Linked DNA regions of Homo sapiens: region 1 is linked to region 2. Evidence: fine-mapped expression QTL. A gene starts in region 2. The other region holds a variant in brackets. All regions are shown on one strand. Distances are from middle to middle.

What was found.
Region 1: its variant is fine-mapped to the expression of ACP5 in breast (GTEx, PIP 0.98).

Annotation. Positions count from the first base shown.
Region 1 is chr19:10,591,598-10,601,610 of GRCh38, reverse strand. It overlaps the pseudogene LSM2P1. Among named protein-coding and RNA genes, the nearest start is that of AP1M2, 9.3 kb to the right of the region's middle. RefSeq lists enhancers at 5,779-5,968, 7,443-7,967, 8,494-9,018. The variant G/A (reference allele first, on the strand shown) is at 4,828.
Region 2 is chr19:11,572,597-11,582,609 of GRCh38, reverse strand. ACP5 (acid phosphatase 5, tartrate resistant) reads left to right here and starts at 4,965. Exons shown (of 5, transcript NM_001611.5): 1 at 4,965-5,017; 2 at 5,293-5,553; 3 at 5,767-5,894; 4 at 6,022-6,367; 5 at 7,358-7,950. The coding sequence starts at 5,293. The coding sequence ends at 7,600. LOC124904638 (a long non-coding RNA gene) reads right to left here and starts at 7,361. Exons shown (of 2, transcript XR_007067140.1): 1 at 7,257-7,361. RefSeq lists silencers at 326-491, 3,506-3,695 and enhancers at 627-826, 4,646-4,785, 4,255-4,866, 4,867-5,479.

The sequences.
Region 1 (10,013 bases), 980 kb after region 2:
AAATAAAATAAAAATAATAATAGAAGATGGATAGATAAATAATTGATAGGTAAATATTGATCACCGTGTACCACTGAACATACCAAAAGATGCCATTTTCATTCATCAGATTGGTAAGAATTTTAGAGTTTAATAACATAAAATCAGGTGAGTGAATACTTTGAAGCAGAATGTTTCCTGGCAGAAAGAGTATATCCAAGTCATGTTCACCTGGTGCGATTCCTGTCTGGCACTGACCCTGGACAAACCACTGCAGGTGTGTGTGCATGGGATGTAGTAACCAAGGGGTGTTCCCTGCAGCCTTGACAGTTATTGTGGAAAAAATGGGTGAAAACAGGCCGGGTGCGGAGGCTCACGCCTGTAATCCCAGCACTTTGGGAGGCCGAGGCGGGCGGATCACTTGAAGTCGGGAGTTCGAGACCAGCCTGACCAACATGGAGAATCCCTGTCTTTACTAAAAATACAAAAAATTAGCCTGGTGTGGTGGCACATGCCTGTAATCCCAGCTACTCTGGAGGCTGAGGAGGAGAATCGCTTGAACCCAGGAGGTGGAGGTTGCGGTGAGCTGAGATGACGCTATTGCACTCCAAACTGGGCAACAGAACTGGGCAAAAAGCGAAACTCTGTCTCAAAAAGAAAAAAAAAAAGAAAGAAAAATGGGTGAAAACATCACTGCACTCCAGCCTGGGTGACAGAGTGAGACCCTGTCTCAAAAAAAAAAAAAAAAAGAAAGAAAGAAAGAAAAAAGAATAAAGCACGAAGTCATCAGGGAAATGTAAATCAAAACCTCGATGAGATATCATTGCACACCCACCTGAATAGCTAAAATTAAAAAGACTGGTCGAACCAAGTGTTGAGGAAGATGGGAAGCATATGGGGGCTCTCCTACACTGTTGGTGAGAATGTAAAATGCCACAACCAGTTGGAAAACGATCTGGCAGTTTCTTGCAAAGTTAATACCCTAGAAATTGCACTTCTAGGTATATACCCAAGAAAAAGTATAAGTGAAGAAAAGAAAAACCCACAGACACATTCATATAAATGTTCATGATAGCCTTATAGTATCCTTATTCGTAGTGGGCAAAAAAACTAGGAGCAGCCCAAATGCCCATTAACAGATCATTGGTGAAGCAAACCATGGTGGGTTTCACCCATACCATGGGATTCTCCTTAGTGATGAGGAATGAATGTTTTCTTCTTTCTTTTTTTAGGGACAGGATCTTGCTGTATTGCCCAGGCTGGATTGCGATGGTGCAGTCATAGCTGACTGAAGCCCTGACCTCCTCAGCTCAAGTGATCCTCCTGCCTCAGCCTCCCGTTGCTGGGACTACAGGCACACACTATCATGCCTGGCTAATTTCTTTCTTTCTTTCTTTTTTTGACAAAGTTTCACTCTTGTTGCTCAGGCTGGAGTGCAATGGTGCAATGGTGTGATCTCAGCTCACCGCAACCTCCGTCTCCCAAGTTCAAGTGATTCTCCTGCCTTAGTCTCTGAGTAGCCGGGATTACAGGCATGCACCACCACGCCTGGCTAATTTTGTATTTTTAGTAGAGACGGGGTTTCTCTATGTTGGTCGGGCTGGTCTGGAACTCCCGACCTCAGGTGATCCGCCCCCCTCAGCCTCCAAAAGTGCTGGGATTATAGGCATGAGCCACCGCACCTGGACATACTCGGCTAATTTTTTAAATTTTTGTGGAGATGAGGGTCTCCCTATGGGTGCCCAGGCTGGTCTCAAGTGATCCTTCTGCCTCAGCCTCCTAGAGTGCTGAGATTACAGGTGTGAGCCACAGCGCCTGGTCCAGGAATAAACTATTGATACAGGCAAAAATATGGATGAATCTCTCCCCAAAAAGCATAATGTTGTGTGAAAGAAACCACACACTTTTTTCTGAAGTTCAAGAACAGGCATAGCTAATCAACCTATAGTAACAGAACATATATCAGTGGTTGACTTTTGGGGTAGTAATAACTACTGGGATGATAGGAGCAGCTTCTGGGCACTGGAAACAGAATTGTAGTTACATAGCTTAGTTTAGTTTGTGAATACTTGACCTTCTCCCCCGTACTCTGCCTGCCTTTTTTTTCTGAGACAGAATCTTGCTCTGTTGCCCAAGCTGGAGTACAGTGGCAATTTTTGTATTTTAGTAGAGACGGGGTTTCGCCATGTTGCCCAGGCTGGTCTCGAACTCCTGATCTCAGGTGATCCACCAACCTCAGCCTCCCAAAGTGCAGGGATTACAGGTGTAAGCCGCTGTGCCCAACCGACTTCTGCCCTTTTAAAATATGTGTTGCTGGCCCGGCACGGTGGCTCACGCCTGTAATCCCAGCACTTTGGGAAGCTGAGTTGAGTGGATCACAAGGTCAGGAGTTCAAGACCAGCTTGACTAACTTGGTGAAACCTGGTCCCTACTAAAAATACAAAAAAAAAAAAAAATTAGACGGGCGTGGCGGCGGGCGCCTGTAATCCCAGCTCCTCAGGAGGCTGAGGCAGAGAATTGCTTGACCCCGGGAGGCAGAGGTCGCAGTGAGCCAAGATTGCACCACTGCACTCCGGCCTGGGTGAAAGAGTGAGACAGCATCTCAAATAAATAAATAAATAAAATAAAATATGTGTTGCTCTTCCTGGTCAGGTCGCCAGCATCATGCTCTTCTATTCCTTTTTTCAAGTCCCTTGTGGGCATGAATGTGGTCATGGAACTCAAGAAAGACCTGAACATCTGTGGCACCCTCCATTCGGTGGATCAGTATCTCAACATCAAATGAGCTGACATCAGTATCACACACCTTGAGAAATATCCTCACATTTTATCAGTGAAGAACTTCTAGGCTGGGTGCAGTGGCTCACACCTGTAACCCCAGCACTTTGGGAGGCCAAGGCAGGTGGATCACCTGAGGTCAGGAGTTTGAGACCAGCCTGGCCAACATGGCAAAACCCCATCTCTACTAAAATACAAAACTTAGCCGGATGTGGTGGCGGGCGCCTGTATTCACAGCTACTCGGGAAGCTGAGGCAGGAGAGTTGCTGGAACCCGGGAGGTGGAGGCTGCAGTGAGCTGAAATCATGCCACTGCACTCCAGCCTGGGTGACAGAGCGAGACTCTGTCTCAAAAAAAGTTTTTTAAAAAGGACTGTTTCATTCCGGGCTCAGTGGTCCCATACGTGCAGTTGCCAGCAAAGGAGGTCGACACACAGTTGCCATAGCATGCAGCAAGGAAGAAAGCCAGCAGTAGTAAGTGACAGCCCCTCCTTCTCTTCCCTTCCCTCTTCCTTGGTGACCTGTAACTCCAAGTCCCAGCCCAGGACCCCTAACTCCCAATACTTGAAGGGGTTTTGTTTGTTTTTTTACTAATGATGGTTTTGTGGGTTTTTTTTAAAAAAGGGAAGAGTGGATAAGGGGAATAATAGGGAACAGGTATCCTTTGTTGAGAAAGGGAGAAGAGGTAGGCTGGGAAACTCCAAAGCCTTCCCAGTCCCCAGCACCTGCCGTTCTCACTACCTCCCTGGAGATGGTGGGAGGGAGGGCTTCCTAGGTCTTTCCAGGGTACCATGTGATTCACCTGGGGGTTGAAAGGAATCTGTCCCATATTGGGAATAACATTTATGATGCAAATATATATGTGTGTTTGTATACATAATAAATAAAAAAGTTACATTTCAAAATGAGAATTTTTAAAATAGTTTAAGAAAAAAGGTGGTGGTCCTGCAGATTATAATAAGAGTGACTGTTTACAGCCAGGAGTGGTGGCTCACATCTGTGATCCCAGCACTCTGGGAGGCAGGAGGGTCACTTGAGGACAGGAGTTCAAGATTAGCCTGGACAACACGATGAAAATCTGTCTCTAAGGCCAGACGCAGTGGCTCTCACCTGTAATCCCAGCACTTTGGGAGGCCGAGGCGGGCGGATCACCTGAGGTCGGGAGTTCGAGACCAGCCCGACCAACATGGAGAAATCCCGTCTTTACTAAAAATACAAAATTAGCCGAGTGTGGTGGCACATGCATGTAATCCCAGCTACTTGGGAGGCTGAAGCAGGAGAATCACTTGAACCTGGGAGTCAGAGGTTGCAGTGATCCAAGAGTGCACCATTGCACACCAGCCTGGGTGACAGAACGAGACTCGGTCTCAAAAAAAAAAAAAAGGAAAGAAAGAGTGAATGTTTATAGAAAGCTTAGTCAGTGTCAGACAAGGTATTAAATGCTTTATATATTTTTTTAACTCTTTTTCTTTTTTTTGAAATAGAGACCAGGTCTCATTAGCCTCAATCGATCTGCCCATCTTGGCCTCTTGAAGTGCTGGGATTACAAGCATGAGCCACCATGCTGGCCAAGCACCTTTTTTTTTTGAACCAAGGCTGCTGGAGGGCAGTGGCGCGATCTTGGCTCACCCAGTAAAGTGCTCTCTGTGTGTGTATGTGTGTGTGTGTGTGTGTATATAGTTGTTGTTGTTTGTTTTAGTTTTTGAGATGGAGTCTCACTCTGTCGCCAAGCTGGAGTGCAGTGGCGTGATCTCAGCTCACTGCACCATCTGCCTCCCGGGTTCAAGCAATTCTCCTGCCTCAGCCTTCTGAGTAGCTGGGATTACAGCACCCACCACCACGCTCAGCTAGTTTTTTGTATTTTTAGTGAAGAACGGGTTTCACTGTCTTAGCCATGATGGTGTCAATCTCCTGACCTCATGATCCACCGCCTCGGCCTCCCAAAGTGCTGGGATTACAGGCGTGAGACACCGCGTCTGGCCCAAGCACTCTGTATTAAATCATTATAATCATTTTCCAATTGGGGAAAGTGACCCAGAGAGGTGAAGTAATTTACCCACAGTAACATAAT[G/A]AGCCCGTGGCTCTGCAAGGATCTGAACCCAGGGAGTCCGACTTTACACCCAAGACACACTTCCTTCCCCTTCAACCACATGCTTTCCGGAGTAGCGTCCAGGTCATATTGTTGAGTGATAATAGCAAGTTGTATTTTTTTTTTTTTATTTAAGACAGAGTCTCTCTCTGTCGCCCAGGCTGGAGTGCAGTGGTGCGAGCTCAGCTCACTGAAACCTCCTTCTCTTGGGTTCAAGTGATTTGTGTGCCTCAGCCTCTGGAGTAGCTGGGATTTCAGGTACGCACCACCATGCCCAGCTTAGTCTATATACATATATATATATATATATATAGTTGTTGTTGCTTGTTTGTTTTGTTTTGTTTTGTTTTTGAGACAGATTCTTGTTCTGTCACCCAGGCTCGAGTGCAGTGGCATGATCTCGGCTCACTGCAACCTCTGCCTCCTGGGTTCAAGCAATTCTCCTGCCTCAGCCTCCCGAGTAGCTGGGATTACAGGTGTCCGCCAGCATACCTGGCTAATTTTTTGTATTTTTAGTAGAGACAGGATTTTATCATGTTGGCCAGGCTTGTCTCAAACTCCTGACCTCAGGTGATTCACCTGCCTTAGCCTCCAAAGTGCAGGGATTACAGGCGTGAGCCACCACACCTGGCCAGTTTTTATATTTTTAGTAGAGACAGATTTTTTGCCATGTTGCCCAGGCTGCTCTTGAACTCTTGGCCTCAAGTGCCCCACCCGCCTCTGCCTCCCAAAGTTCTGGGATTACAGGTGAGAGCCACTGTGCCCATCCACAAGTTGTATAGTCTTATATGGTATGGGAGAAAGAGAGAGAAAGAGGGCAACACGCGCACACACACACACACACACACACACACACACAAACACACACACACACCCCCCTGCATGTAACCCAGCTGAAAAAGATCTGAATCAGCCAGTGGTTATGAGAGGGACGAAGATTGGGGTATGGGGGTGTCACAGGGGACTTTTTTTTTCTTTTTCTCTCACATCTCTGCTGGGAGGAACTTTTGCCTTTTCTTTAGTTTTGTTTTCTATTTTGTTTTCTCAGGAACTGGCTCAGCACAGTATTTTCTTAAGATAGGTTCTTGCTTTGTCACCGAGGCTGGAGTGCAGTGGTGCAACCATAGCTCACTGCAGCCTCAATCTTCTGGGCTCCAGTGATCCTCCCACCTCAGACTCCTGAGTAGCTGGGCATGGTGGCTTACACTTGTAATCCCAGCACATTGGGAGGCTGAGATGGGTGGATCACTTGAGGTCAGGAGTTTGAGACCAGCCTAGTCAACATGGCGAAACCCAGTCTCTACCAAAAATACAAAAATTAGCCCAGCGTGGTGGCAGATGCCTGTAATCCCAGCTACTTGGGAGGCTGAGGCAGGAGAATCACTTGAACTAGGAGAAGGAGGAGGTTGCAATTAGCTGAGATTGCGCCACTGCACTCCAGCCCCTGGGCGACAAAGTGAGAATCCGTCTCAAAAAAAAAAGAAAAAAAAGCTGGGCGCGGCGGCTCACGCCTATAATCCCAGCACTTTGGGAGGCTGAGGCAGGCACATCTCCAGGTCAGGAGTTCCAGACCAGCTTGGCCAAGAGACCAGCCTGGCCAATATGGCGAAACCCTGCCTCTACTAAAAATACAAAAATTAGCCGGGTGTGGTGGCAGGCACCTGTAGTCCCAGCTACTCGGGAGGCTGAGGCAGGAGAATGGCATGAACCCGGGAGGCAGAGCTTGCAGGGAGCTGAGATCGTGCCACTGCACTCCAGCCTGGGCAACAGAGCGAGACTCTGTCTCAAAAAAAAATAATAATAAAATAATAAAAGTAAATGAATAAATAAAATATAAAAAAATAAAATTAGCTGGGCGTGGTGGGGGGCGCCTGTAATCCCAGCTACTCAGGAGGCTGAGGCAGGAGAACTGCTTGAACCTAGGAGATGGAGGCTGCAGTGAGCCGAGATTGTGCCACTGCACTCAAGCCTCGGTGACGGTGAGACTCCATCTCAAAATAAATAAAAAAAAGAAAAGAAGAAGAAGAAGGAGGAGGAGGAGAAGGAAAAGGAGAAGAAGAAGAAGAAGAAGAGTGGGTGCCAGGGGTTGGGAGAGGGAGAAGGAGTGTTTCATAGGGAGAAGTTTTCCTTTGGGAAGATGAGAAAGTTCTGGAGATGGATGGTGGTGACGGTTGCATGGCCATTAATGTGCTTAATGCCACCGAACTGTGCACTTCAAAATGGCTAAGGTGGCCAGCTGTGGTGGCACGTGTCTATAGTCTCAGCTACTTGGGAGGCTGAGGTGGGAGGATGGCTTGAGACAGCAGGAGAGGAACTGAAATTCGGGCAGTTAGGGTGTCTGGGACAGCAGGTTCAGGTGGTGTCCTGTGGCAGAGGTCAGCAGGTGTCTGACTGTGCCAGGTGGGGGTGGTTGGAGGGCAATGGGGGGCCATAGAGGATGTGAGAGTGAGAGTCAAAAAATAATTGTGAGTTTCAGAGAGATCTCTTTAGTGGTGTGGAGAAGGGATTGTGGACAGGGCCTAGAGGCGTGGTCCCTGGGAGAGGCTGGAGGAGGCTCCAGGCATCCAGAAGGAACTAGGACAAGGCCACAGCCTCAGGGGGATGGGGGAGGCCGCCACTGAGGTGGGGCAGGCGGGGCAGGCAGAGCCAGCACACAGAGCTGCTCTGTTCTCTGACCCCAAGTAAGCTTTTGGGCTCATGAATTTTTCATGCCAAACAAGCCTGGAGTTTCAGATTCCAGGGCACTGGGCCCAGGCTTTCGGGTTCTGCTTACTGCCTGAAAACATCTCAGGGCCCCAGGAGATGAGTTCTTCATTTTGTTGTTGTTGTTGTTTTTGAGACAGAGTCTCACTCTATTGCCCCAGGCTGGAGTGCAATGGCGCAATCTTGGCTCACTGCAACCTCTGCCTCCCAGTTTCAAGTGATTCTCCTGCCTCAGTCTCCTGAGTAGGTGGGATTACAGGCATGTGCTACCACCCCCGGCTAATTCTGTATTTTTAGTCCAGACAGGGTTTCACCATTTTGGCCAGGCTGGTCTCAAACTCCTGACCTCAGGTGATCCACCCACCTCAGCCTCCCGAAGTGCTAGGATTACAGGCGTGAGCCACCACGCCCGGCTGCCAGGAGACGAGTTATTTTGAGGTTCAGCAATGTCTAGGCTGGGGTGAGGGCCTAGCAGTGACTGCATCCCCCTAGGTGACCTTCTCAGCAGGCAGTTGCTGGGAGCATGAAGGACCACCCCCCTCCTTTGGGCAGAAGCAACATAAAGTCTTGGGCTTTAGGCTGGGCGAGATGGCTCACGCCTATAATCCCAGCACTGTGGGAGGCCGAGGCGGGTGGACCACTTAAGTCCACAAGTTGGAGACCAGCCTGGGCGACATTGTGAAACCTGTCTGTACCAAAAAGTATAAAAATTAGCTGGATGTGGTGGTCACGCACCTGTGGTCCCAGCTGTGCAGGAGGCTGGGGTGGGAGAATTGCTTGATTGCTTGAACCTGGGGAGGTGGAGGTTGCAGTGAGCTGAGATCACACCACTGCACTCCAGCCTGGGTGACAGAGACCCTGCCTCAAAAATAATAATAATAATAATAATAATAATCAGGGCCAGGTGCGATGGCTCACCCCTGTAATCCCAGCACTTTGGGAGGCTGAGGTGGGTGGATCACCTGAGGTCGGGAGTTTGAGACCAGCCTGACCAACATGGAGAAACCTTGTCTGTACTAAAAATACAAAATTAGCCAGGCATGGTGGTGCATGCCTGTAATCCCAGCTACTTGGGAGGCTGAGGCAGGAGAATCACTTGAACCTGGGAGGCGGAGGGTATGGTGAGCCAAGGTTGCACCATTGCCCTCCAGCCTGGGCAACAAGAGTGAAATTCCATCTCAAAAAACAAAAAAGTCCGGGTGCAGTGGCTCAAACCTGTAATCCCAGCACTTTGGGAGGCCAACGTGCAATGCGGGCGGATCACAAGGTCAGGAGTTTGAGACCGTCCTGGCCAAAATGGCGAACCCCCATCTCTACTAAAAATACAAAAATTAGCCAGGCATAGTGGCACAAACCTGTGGTCCCAGCTACTTGGGAAGCTGAGACAGAAGAATCACTCGAACCCGTGAGGCGGAGGTTGCAGTGAGTCAAGATCACACCACTCCACTCCAGCCTGGGCGACAGAGCGAGACTCTGTCTCAAAACAAAAAACAAAACAAAACAAAAAAACCTTGTGCTTTCCAGAGCTCAAATCCCAGCTCTGCTTCTTCTGACTGGATGACATTGTACAAATCACTTACTCTCTCAAGGCCTCAGTTTCCCTATCTGTCAAATGAAGATAATAGAGTTGGGGGAGGTGACTCGTGTCTGTAATCTCAGTGTTTTGGAAGGCTGAGGTGGGAGGACAGCTTGAGGCCAGAAGCTCAAGACCAGCTTGAGCAACGTAGCGAGACCCCATCTCTACAAAAAATTTAAAAATTGGGCAGGCACGGTGGCTCACGCCTGTAATCCCAGCACTTTGAGAGGCTGAGGTGTGCGGATCACGAGGTCAGGAGATCGAGACCATCTTGGCTAACACGGTGAAACCCCGTCTCTACTAAAAATACAAAAAAATTAGCCGGGCTTGATGGCGGATGCCTGTAGTCCCAGCTACTCCGGAGGCTGAGGCAGGAGAAGGGTGTGAACCTGTGAGGCGGAAGTTGCAGTGAGCCGAGATTGCGCCACTGCACTCCAGCCTGGGCGACAGAGCAAGACTCTGTCTCAAAAAAAAAAAAAAAAAAAATTTAAAAATTAGCTGGGAGTGGTGTTGCTCACCTGTAGTCCCAGCTACTGGAGAGGCCTAGGTGAGAGGATCTCTTGAGTTCAGAAGGTTGAGGCTGCAGTGAGCCGTGTTTGCACCACTGCACCGCAGCCTGGGCGACAAAGCAAGTCCTTGTCTCAAATAAATAAAAAAAAAAAATAGGCTTCTGTAATTCAAGGGGCTGTCTTGAGGATTCCTGCATGGGCGACATTTAGGGCCACCCTCACTTATGGTGAGCACCATTTAAGCCAGAGTTAGTGTTACTAATAGTAATATTTGCATCCAGCAATATAGCAAAGCAGGCGGAAGCAGGCTGGGACCAGATTCTTAAATCCCGGGACTCAGATTCGAATTCTGGGTCAACTGCCTCCTGGCTCTGGGGCCG
Region 2 (10,013 bases):
AGCGATTCTCCTGCCTCAGCCTCCTGAGTAGCTGGGACTACAGGCACGTGCCACCACACCCAGGTAATTTTTTGTATTTATAGTAGAGATGGGGTTTCACCATGTTAGCCAGGATGGTCTCGATCTCCTGACCTCTTGATCCACCCGCCTCGGCCTCCCAAAGTGCTGGGATTACAGGCATGAGCCACTGCACCTGGCCTATTCTTTAATCTTTTTAAATGTCTCCACCAAGCAAACACCTTGAGAAGTCCTTATCAGTTATTAAAAATCTACAATGCAAACATACAAATAAAAGGAGAACAGTAAGTTCTCTTAAACATTCTGATACTACTTCTAAACTTAGCCAATAAACTGAGAATGAATGTTAATTTTTTAAATAAACAGGCCAGGGGCAGTGGTTCACACCTGTAATCCCAGCACTTTGAGGGGCTGAGTTGGGAGGATTGCTTGAACTCAGGAGTTCAAGAGCAGCCTGGACAAGGTGACAAATCCCTCTCTCTACAAAAAATACAAAAATTAGCTGGGTGTGGTGGTGTGTGCCTGTAGTCTCAATCCCCAGGAGGCCAAGGGGTGTGGGAGGATCCCCTGAGCCCAGAAGGTCGAGTCTGCAGTGAGCCGTGATCGCATCACTGGTCTCCAGCCTGGGTGACTCTGTTTTAGAAAAAGAAAAAAGAAAGAAAAAAAAAGCTTTCATTAACTGAAGACAGACTGAAAGCAAGAGAAACTGAAAGCAAGATAAATGAGTGGGTGGTTTTCTCAAGCACTGGTAAGTGCTGCAGAGAAAACTACAGCAACAGGAGAGTCAATGATGGGGGCAGGGTGGTGCATTTCAGATAATTTCAGATAAATTATCTTTTTCTTTTTTTTTTTTTTTTTTTGAGACAGAGTCTCACTCTGTCACCCAGGCTAGAGTACAGTGGCACGATCTTGGCTCACTGCAACCTCCGCCTCCCAGGTTCAAGCAATTCTCCTGCCTCGACCTCCTGAGTAGCTGGGACCACAGGTTTGTGCCACCACGCCCAGCTAATTTCTGTATTTTTAGTAGAGATGGGGTTTCACCATGTTGGCCAGGCTGGTCTCGAACTCCTGGCCTCAAGTGATCCACCCGGCTTGGCTTCCCAAAGTGCTGGGATTACAGGCGTGAGCCACCACGCCCAGACTCATTTCAGATAAATTAAAGGAACTTGAACACAATGGGTGACCTCAGTATCTGACTAAGGAAGACCCTTCCAGGCAGGGAGAACAGAAAGTGCCAAGACCCTGAGGCCAGAGTGTATCTGAGACAGTCAAGCAATGCGGAGGAGGTCAGAGGAGCAAGAAACAGGGAAAGCAGGATTGGCAGGAGGAAGGAAGGGAAGGGATTGGGTAGAGACAGCAGCGGAGAACAGGACCTGGATGTATTGGCAACAGGAGGAACTCACTCGTGGGGTTGTTGACATCTGAGATTGACACTGGTGTTGGGAAAATAGGAAAGGGTGGAGGTGGAGGGAGATTCTGAGTCACAGCCTGATCTAGCTCCACAGAAAATCAGCAGAAGAGAGTTCTCCTGGGTGAATGGAGAGAGAAGAGCTTATTCAGCACCCTGGAGGAGACCAGAGAGAGATAGCCAAGAACGCACAGGTTTTATTACATGCTCTGTGCAAGATCAGGTTTATTTTTTTCATTGTGCTCTCTCTCTCTCTCTCTCTCTCTCTCTGAGACAAGAGTCTAGCTGTGTTGCCCAGGCTGAAGGTCAGTGGTGCATTCGTAGCTTATTGCAGCCTCAAACTCCCAGGCTCAAGCGATCCTCCACCTCAGCTTCCTGAGTAGATGGAACCACAGGTGTGCACCACCATGCCTGGCTAATTTTTTTTTTTTTTTTTTTTTTTTTTGTAGCAATGTGGTCTCGCCACGATGCCCAGGCTGTTCCTGAACTCCCGGGCTCAAGCGATCCTCCCACATTGGCTGGGTTTACAGGCCTGAGCCACCATGCTTGGCCAGCTTTTTCAATTTAAAAAATATAGAAAGTGTTAATACAAATTAAAAAGTTATAAAATAGTGCCAATAGTATCCCATTTTTCCGAAGACAAACATAGGCAGAGAAAAATTAATGGATACTGTCTCTCTGGGCAGGGGTATTACTGGCTATTATAATCTTTTTCTTCGTGCATTCCAGAATTTACCAACTTTTCTACAAAGATCATGTAGCACAATAAGATAATAAACATAATTTTGTGTGATCTCAAAATACAGGAAGCATAGAAGCTTCCAAAACACGCCTGTACCCACCACGTGAAGAAACAGATGTTAACATTTGGTCATAATTGCTTCAGATTTCTTTCTTTTTTTTTTTTTCTGTTTTTTTTTTGGGGGGGACAGAGTCTTGCTCTGTCGCCCAGGCTGGAATGTAGTGGCATGATATTGGCTCAGTGCAACCTCCTCCTCCTGGGTTGGAGTGCAGTGGCATGATCTCAGTTCACTGCAACCTCTGCCTCCTGGGTTCAAGAGAGCACCTCCAGCTAATTTTTGTCTTTTTAGTAGAGACAAGGTTTTGCCATGTTGCCCAGGCTGGTCTGGAACACCTGACCTCAAGTGATCCGCTCACCTCGGCCTCCCAAAGTGCCAGGATTACAGGTGTGAGACACCACACCGGCTAAATAATAAGTTTTTAAAAAAACAGGAGACTGGCCAGGCATGGTGACTCACGCCTGTAATCGCAGAACTTTGGGAGGCTGAGGTGGGCAGATCACCTGAGATCGGGCATTGGAGACCAGCCTGGCCAACATGGAGAAACCCCGTCTCTACTAAAAATACAAAATTAGCCGGGCGTGGTGGTGCGTGCCTGTAATCACAGCTACTAGGGAGGCTGAGGCAGGAGAATCGCTTGTACCCGGGAGGCGGAGGTTGCGTGAGCCAAGATTGCGCCACTGCACTCCAGCCTGGGCAACCAGAATAAAACTGTCTCAAAAAAAAAAAAAACAAAAACAGGCCGGGCGCGGTGGCTCACGCCTGTAATCCCAGCACTTTGGAAGGCCAAGGTGGGTGGATCACGAGGTCAGGAGATCGAAACCATCCTGGCTAACACGGTGAAACCCCGTCTCTACTAAAAAATACAAAAAATTAGCCGGGCGCGGTGGCGGCGCCCGTAGTCCCAGCTACTCGGGGGTGCTGAGGCAGGAGAATGGCGAGAACCCGGGAGGCAGAGCTTGCAGTGAGCCGAGATCGCGCCACTGCAGTCCGGCCTGGGTGAAAGAGCGAGACTCTGTCTCAAAAAAAAAAAAACCAAACAAACAAACAAACAAAAAAACAAAACAACAGGAGAAGATGATGACAGACCTCACAAGAGCTTGGCCCCAGGGCTGAAACCCCACCCAGTGCTGTGGTTCTGCGGCTGTGGGCCCATGGGTGCCCCCAAAGGGTCCCAGGCAGATGGAGGCTCCTGGTTGGCGTGGAGGAAGGAAAAGGATGAAATCGGCTCCCCTGGCCACCCCTTCTAGCCCAGCTGCAGCTGCAGTCCGTGGGTCTGAGCCGACCCTTGGGGTTCATCGGCCCATTTTACAGATGCGGAGCCTACAGCCGGGAGGCGTGGCGGCTCTGGGCGGTGCAGGGTTCCGGGGCGGGGAGGCCGAGGCGCCCGCCCTCCCCGCCGGGGCTCACCTGGGTCAGCCCTGAGCCCTCGAGCAGGGCGGATCGGCCGCTGCCTGCTTAAAGCTGGGGCCGCCAGGAGTGCGATCGCCTGCGGATCTGCAGCTGGGCACCGGCCGCAACGCCCGCCCCGCGACGGCAGGTGAGATGCGGGCGGCCCCGTGGGAGGGGTCTCTGCCTGTCCTCGTCACCCACTTCCTTCCCGTTTGTTGCTGCTGCAGGGCTGGGAATGGGGGGGACCAAGCACTTCGCAGGGTGACCCGGGGAGATCTGTGAGCCAGTGGCCTCAGCGTTGAATGAGAGCTCTCTCCCGGGTCCGCGCTCGCAGGGACTGAAGGGACTCCTGAATGTCCGCGGGACGTGTCGCGGCGGCGCCCAGCACGGAGGAGGCAGGCAGGGAGGTGAGGAGCAGGTCAGACCGGCCGCAGGTGCAGGGCCTCCTGCCCTCCCAGGCTGCGGTCCCGTGGAGGGCCTGCAGACAGCTGCTGAGACTATGAGGGTCAGAGGTCTGTGGTCACGCGCGCTATCACCAGCTAGCTGCCTCCTGCCTGGTTCCTCCTGCAGGAATGGGAGTCTGGGGGGAGGGGAGGGTGTGGGCAGGACTTCCTGGAAAAGGGAAGCCCGTTGGTGTTTATGTGTGGGATGGAGAGAGGGCAGGGGGAGGACGGGGACACACGCGGAGTCCCCCACCCAGATGTTGTCAAACACAGCTCCCACACCAGACACGCAACCCATCCTAGAGATGCAACCCAGGCACACACACATGGACACACACAAAACTCCATCCATAGGGATTCCCACCCAGTGCCACGTGAGAACACAGGCGTGCATCGCAGACAAGCCACACAGGCCTCGCAGGCTCAGCATACATGTCTGCAGCAACACCATCAGGTACAGAGCCGAGGCCCAGGTAGGCATGCTCAGCTGCACGCAGGAAGCAAGACACACCCAGACACACACAGGTAAGCCCTTACTCAGAGAAAGAAGGTGCAGGAGATGTGTCTTGGGTAATCACAGCCACAGCCTCTCAAGTGTGCACACACACACACACTCACACTGAGATACACAGACACACAGAGATACCTGGACGTGTCAAGCCTACAGCACAAACAGGCCCCTGCAGGTCCACCCGGAGGCTGTGTGGGCCGAGGCTGCTGCACACGTGTGCCCAGATCCTCCCACCCCCACCCCAATCCCGTGTCCTGCTCCAGGGAAGTCCAGGGCTCACATGACCCAAGGGGAGGGCTCCCGGGACAGCCCTCGGAGAAACTGCATCATCCTCACTAATGATCCACTTCCTCCTCAGGGAATAAAGGCTCAGGGACCGGCAGTTCTACTCTAGAGCCCACCAGCCTCTCAGAGCCTCCGGTGACTGGCCTGTGTCTCCCCCTGGGTGAGTGCTGGGCAGGCTAGGTGGAAGGAGGGTGAAATGGGCCTGCAGGGCCATCTTGGTACAGCTCGCCCTCTCACAGACCGCGCCCCCCTTCCCTAAGCCAGCTTGTGCAGCCTTGTGCAGCTTGTGTGTCCTGAGAATTAGGGCACCAAGGGGTTCCCGCAGGGGCAGCCTGCAGCAAGCAGTCTCCCTCTATCTCAGGGCAGGCGGGGGTCTCAAGGCCTCCCTGCCCTTGTCACAGCCCGGGCCACCTATGCTTGTCTCTCTTCTCCCAGATGGACATGTGGACGGCGCTGCTCATCCTGCAAGCCTTGTTGCTACCCTCCCTGGCTGATGGTGCCACCCCTGCCCTGCGCTTTGTAGCCGTGGGTGACTGGGGAGGGGTCCCCAATGCCCCATTCCACACGGCCCGGGAAATGGCCAATGCCAAGGAGATCGCTCGGACTGTGCAGATCCTGGGTGCAGACTTCATCCTGTCTCTAGGGGACAATTTTTACTTCACTGGTGTGCAAGACATCAATGACAAGAGGTTCCAGGTCTGTGCCCAACAGAGTGGGGCAGGAGGTGGGGGCGGGCAGTGGGGAGAAGCCGCCTTACCTAGTGACCTTCCTTTGGTGAGGGCAGAGGGAAGGTGATGGGGCACCTTTGGGCGCCGGGAGCATTCAGTGTCTCCCTTATCCTGACTTGGTGGGAGGATCGGCATAGCCACTGACCCCAGGGAAGAGGCCTGCCCTATCTGTTTGCTACAGGAGACCTTTGAGGACGTATTCTCTGACCGCTCCCTTCGCAAAGTGCCCTGGTACGTGCTAGCCGGAAACCATGACCACCTTGGCAATGTCTCTGCCCAGATTGCATACTCTAAGATCTCCAAGCGCTGGTGAGCCACCCTCAGCCCTGCCTTCCGAGATCCTCACATAGCAGGGACACAGGGGCCCTGTGGCTTGAGCTGACCCTGGGACTTCTGCGCCCAAGATGTGCACCCACGACCTCTATCCCCTCCACAGGAACTTCCCCAGCCCTTTCTACCGCCTGCACTTCAAGATCCCACAGACCAATGTGTCTGTGGCCATTTTTATGCTGGACACAGTGACACTATGTGGCAACTCAGATGACTTCCTCAGCCAGCAGCCTGAGAGGCCCCGAGACGTGAAGCTGGCCCGCACACAGCTGTCCTGGCTCAAGAAACAGCTGGCGGCGGCCAGGGAGGACTACGTGCTGGTGGCTGGCCACTACCCCGTGTGGTCCATAGCCGAGCACGGGCCTACCCACTGCCTGGTCAAGCAGCTACGGCCACTGCTGGCCACATACGGGGTCACTGCCTACCTGTGCGGCCACGATCACAATCTGCAGGTGAGGGCCCTGTGGGTGGGGTGGGAGCTGGGTGAGGGGGGTCCCCATCCCAGCTGATGTCCACATGGCTGGGGTCCTCCTGCTGTTTGAGGGTCTCCTGTGGCCTTCAGAATGTCTAGACTGTCCCTCAAATCTTGCTGTCTAACCAGGAAAACACTCCAAAGCCAGAATAATATCTTCGAATTGCCAATTTCTTTCTTTCTTTCTTTTTTAAGCTCTTTTTTTTTTTTTTTTTTGGAGACAAGGTTTCATTGTTTTTCACCCAGGCTGGAGTGCAGTGGTGCAATCGGGGCTTACTGCAGCTTCAATCTCCCGGGCTCAGGTGAACCTCCCACTTCAGCCTCCAGAGTAGCTGACACTACAGGCATGGGCCACCACATGCAGCTAATTTTTGCTTTTTTTTTTTTTTTTGAGAGGGAGTGCAGTGGCACGATCTCAACTCACTGCAACCTCCGCCTCCTGGGTTCAAGCAATTCTCCTGTCTCAGCCTCCCAAGTAGCTGGGATTACAAGCATGGGCCACCAAACCTTGCTAATTTTTATATTTTAGTAGAGACGGGGTTTCACCATGTTGGCCAGGCTGATCTCGAACTTCTGACCTCAAGTGATCTGCCCGCCTCGGCCTCCCAAAGTGCTGGGATTATAGGCATGAGCCACTGCACCTGGCCCTTGCGCATTTTTTTTGTAGAGGCAAGGTCTCACTATGTTGCCCAGGCTGGTCTCAAATTCCTGGGCTCAAGCAATCCACCCCCTCAGCCTCCCAAAGTGCTGGGATTACAGGCATGAGCCACCACACCTGGCCACCAATTTCTTACTAAGTGCTCTACCTATGAAATAGGATTAATACACTCCTAAAAGTCAGGAAATTGAAGCCAGGAGGGGTTACATACCTCAAGGTGACTCTGTGGTTAGGGCCAGATCGAGCCCTGGACCTTAGGCAGGGCTCTGCTCAAAGCTGGGTCTCCACTGACCCCTTGTCCTCCATCCTCAGTACCTGCAAGATGAGAATGGCGTGGGCTACGTGCTGAGTGGGGCTGGGAATTTCATGGACCCCTCAAAGCGGCACCAGCGCAAGGTCCCCAACGGCTATCTGCGCTTCCACTATGGGACTGAAGACTCACTGGGTGGCTTTGCCTATGTGGAGATCAGCTCCAAAGAGATGACTGTCACTTACATCGAGGCCTCGGGCAAGTCCCTCTTTAAGACCAGGCTGCCGAGGCGAGCCAGGCCCTGAACTCCCATGACTGCCCAGCTCTGAGGCCCGATCTCCACTGTTGGGTGGGTGGGCCCTGCCGGGACCCTGCTCACAGGCAGGCTTTTCCTCCAACCTGTGGCGCTGCAGCAGGGCAGGAAGGGGAAACACAGCTGATGAACTGTGGTGCCACATGACCCTTGTGGCACAGATGCCCACGTATGTGAAACACACATGGACATGTGTCCCAGCCACAGTGTTATGCTCTGTGGCTGGCTCACCTTTGCTGAGTTCCGGGGTGCAATGGGGGAGGGAGGGAGGGAAAGCTTCCTCCTAAATCAAGCATCTTTCTGTTACTGATGTTCAATAAAAGAATAGTTGCCAAGGCTGAACCAGTGCCACTGGTGTGTTATGTTCTCCTGGTTAGAGTGGCTGGGCTCCCCTGAGCTGCTGTTCCTTGCCTCCATCTCTTACCCCATCCATGACCAAGTTGCCTTATCCATGGATGTGATTATAAAACCCGGCCAGGCACGGTGGCTCACACCTGTAATCCCAGCACTTTGGGAGGCCGAGGTGGGCGGATCACGAGGTCAGGAGATCGAGACCATCCTGACTAACATGGTGAAACCCCGTCTCTACTAAAACTACAAAAAAATTAGCCAGGCGTGGCGGCGGGTGCCTGTAGTCCCAGCTACTTGGGAGGCTGAGGCAGGAGAATAGTGTGAACCCAGGAGGCGGAGCTTGCAGTGAGCCAAGATAGCGCCACTGCACTCCTGCCTGGGTGAAAGAGCGAGACTCCATCTCAAAAAAATAAAAAATAAAAAAAAAATAAAATCCAAGCAGAGGCCAGGCTCAGTGGTTCACATCTGTAATCCCAGCACTTTGGGAGGCCAAAGCGGGTGGATTATTTGAGGTCAGGAGTTCAAGATCAGCCTGGCCAGCATAGTGAAACCCCATGTCCACTAAAAATACAAAAAGTTAGTCAGGCTTGCTGGCGAGTGCCTGTAATCCCAGCTACTTGGGAGTCTGAGGCAGGAGAATCACTTGCATCTGGGAGGTGGAGGCTGCAGTGAGTCAAGATTGCGCCACTGCACTCCAGCCTGGGCAACAAGAGTTAAACTCTGCCTGAAAAAAAAAAATTGGCCAGTTGTGGTGGCAGGAGCCTATGGTCCTAGCTACTCAGGAGGCTGAGGCAGGAGAATTGCTTGAACCCAGGAGGCGGAGGTTGCAATGAGCTGAGATTGTGCCACTGTACTCCAGCCTGGGTGACAGAGCAAGAATCTGTCTCAAAAAAAATAAGTAAATAAAATAGGCCAGGCACGATGGCTCACACCTGTAATGCCAGCACTTTGCAAGGCCTAGGTGGTCGGATCACTTGAGGTCAGAAGTTCAAGACCAGCCTGGCCATCATGGTGAAACCCCATCTCTACTAAAAATACAAAACTTATCTAGGCGTGGTGACACATGACTGTAATCCCAGCTACTTGGGAGGCTGAGGCGAGAGAATCACTTGAGCCTAGGGGGTTTGCGGGTAAAGGGGGTGGAGAGGTGAGGGCGGAGATTGCAGTGAGCTGAGATTGTGCCACTGCACTCCAGCCTGGGTGATAGAGCAAGACTCTGTCTCAAAAAAAAAATTAATTCAATAAAATCCAAGCAGAAAGAAGGGTACAACATAAAGCAAGTCTTCCTCCACCCCAGGGGCAACTAATATTAATCATTTTCTTTCTCTATATAGTCTATGCCTCCATAATCAAAACATTCCCTTTATTATTTTCTTTTTTTTTTCTTTTTTTTTTTTTTTGAGATGGAGTCTCACTCTGTCACCAGGCTGGAGTGCAGTGGCGTGAGCTCGGCTCGCTGAAACCTCCAACTCCCAGATTCAAGCAATTCTCCTGGCTCAGCCTCCTGAGTAGCTGGGATTATAGGCACGCGCCACCACGCCCAGCTAATTTTTTTTTTTTTTTTTTTTTTTTTTGAGATGGAGTCTTGCTCTGTCGCCCAGGCTGGAGTGCAGCGGCGTGATCTCGGCTCACTGCAAGCTCTGCCTCCCGGGTTCACACCATTCTCCTGCCTCAGCCTCCCAAGTAGCTGGGATTACAGGCGTCTGCCACCACACCCGGCTCGTTTTTTGTATTTTTAAATAGAGATGGGGTTTCATCGTGTTAGCCAGGATGGTCTCAATCTCCTGACCTCGTGATCCGCCTGCCTCAGCCTCCCAAAGTGCTGGGATTACAGGAGTGAGCCACCGCGCCTGGCAATTTTTGTATTTTTAGTAGAGATGGGGTTTCACCATGTTGGCCAGGATGGTCCCAATCTCCTGACCTCATGACCTGCCCGCCTCAGCCTCCCAAAGTGTTGGGATTACAGGCGTGAGCCGCCGTGCCCGGCCTATTATTTCTTTAGGGAGAGGGGTCTTGCTATATTGTCCAGGCTGGAGTGCAGTGGTGCAATCATA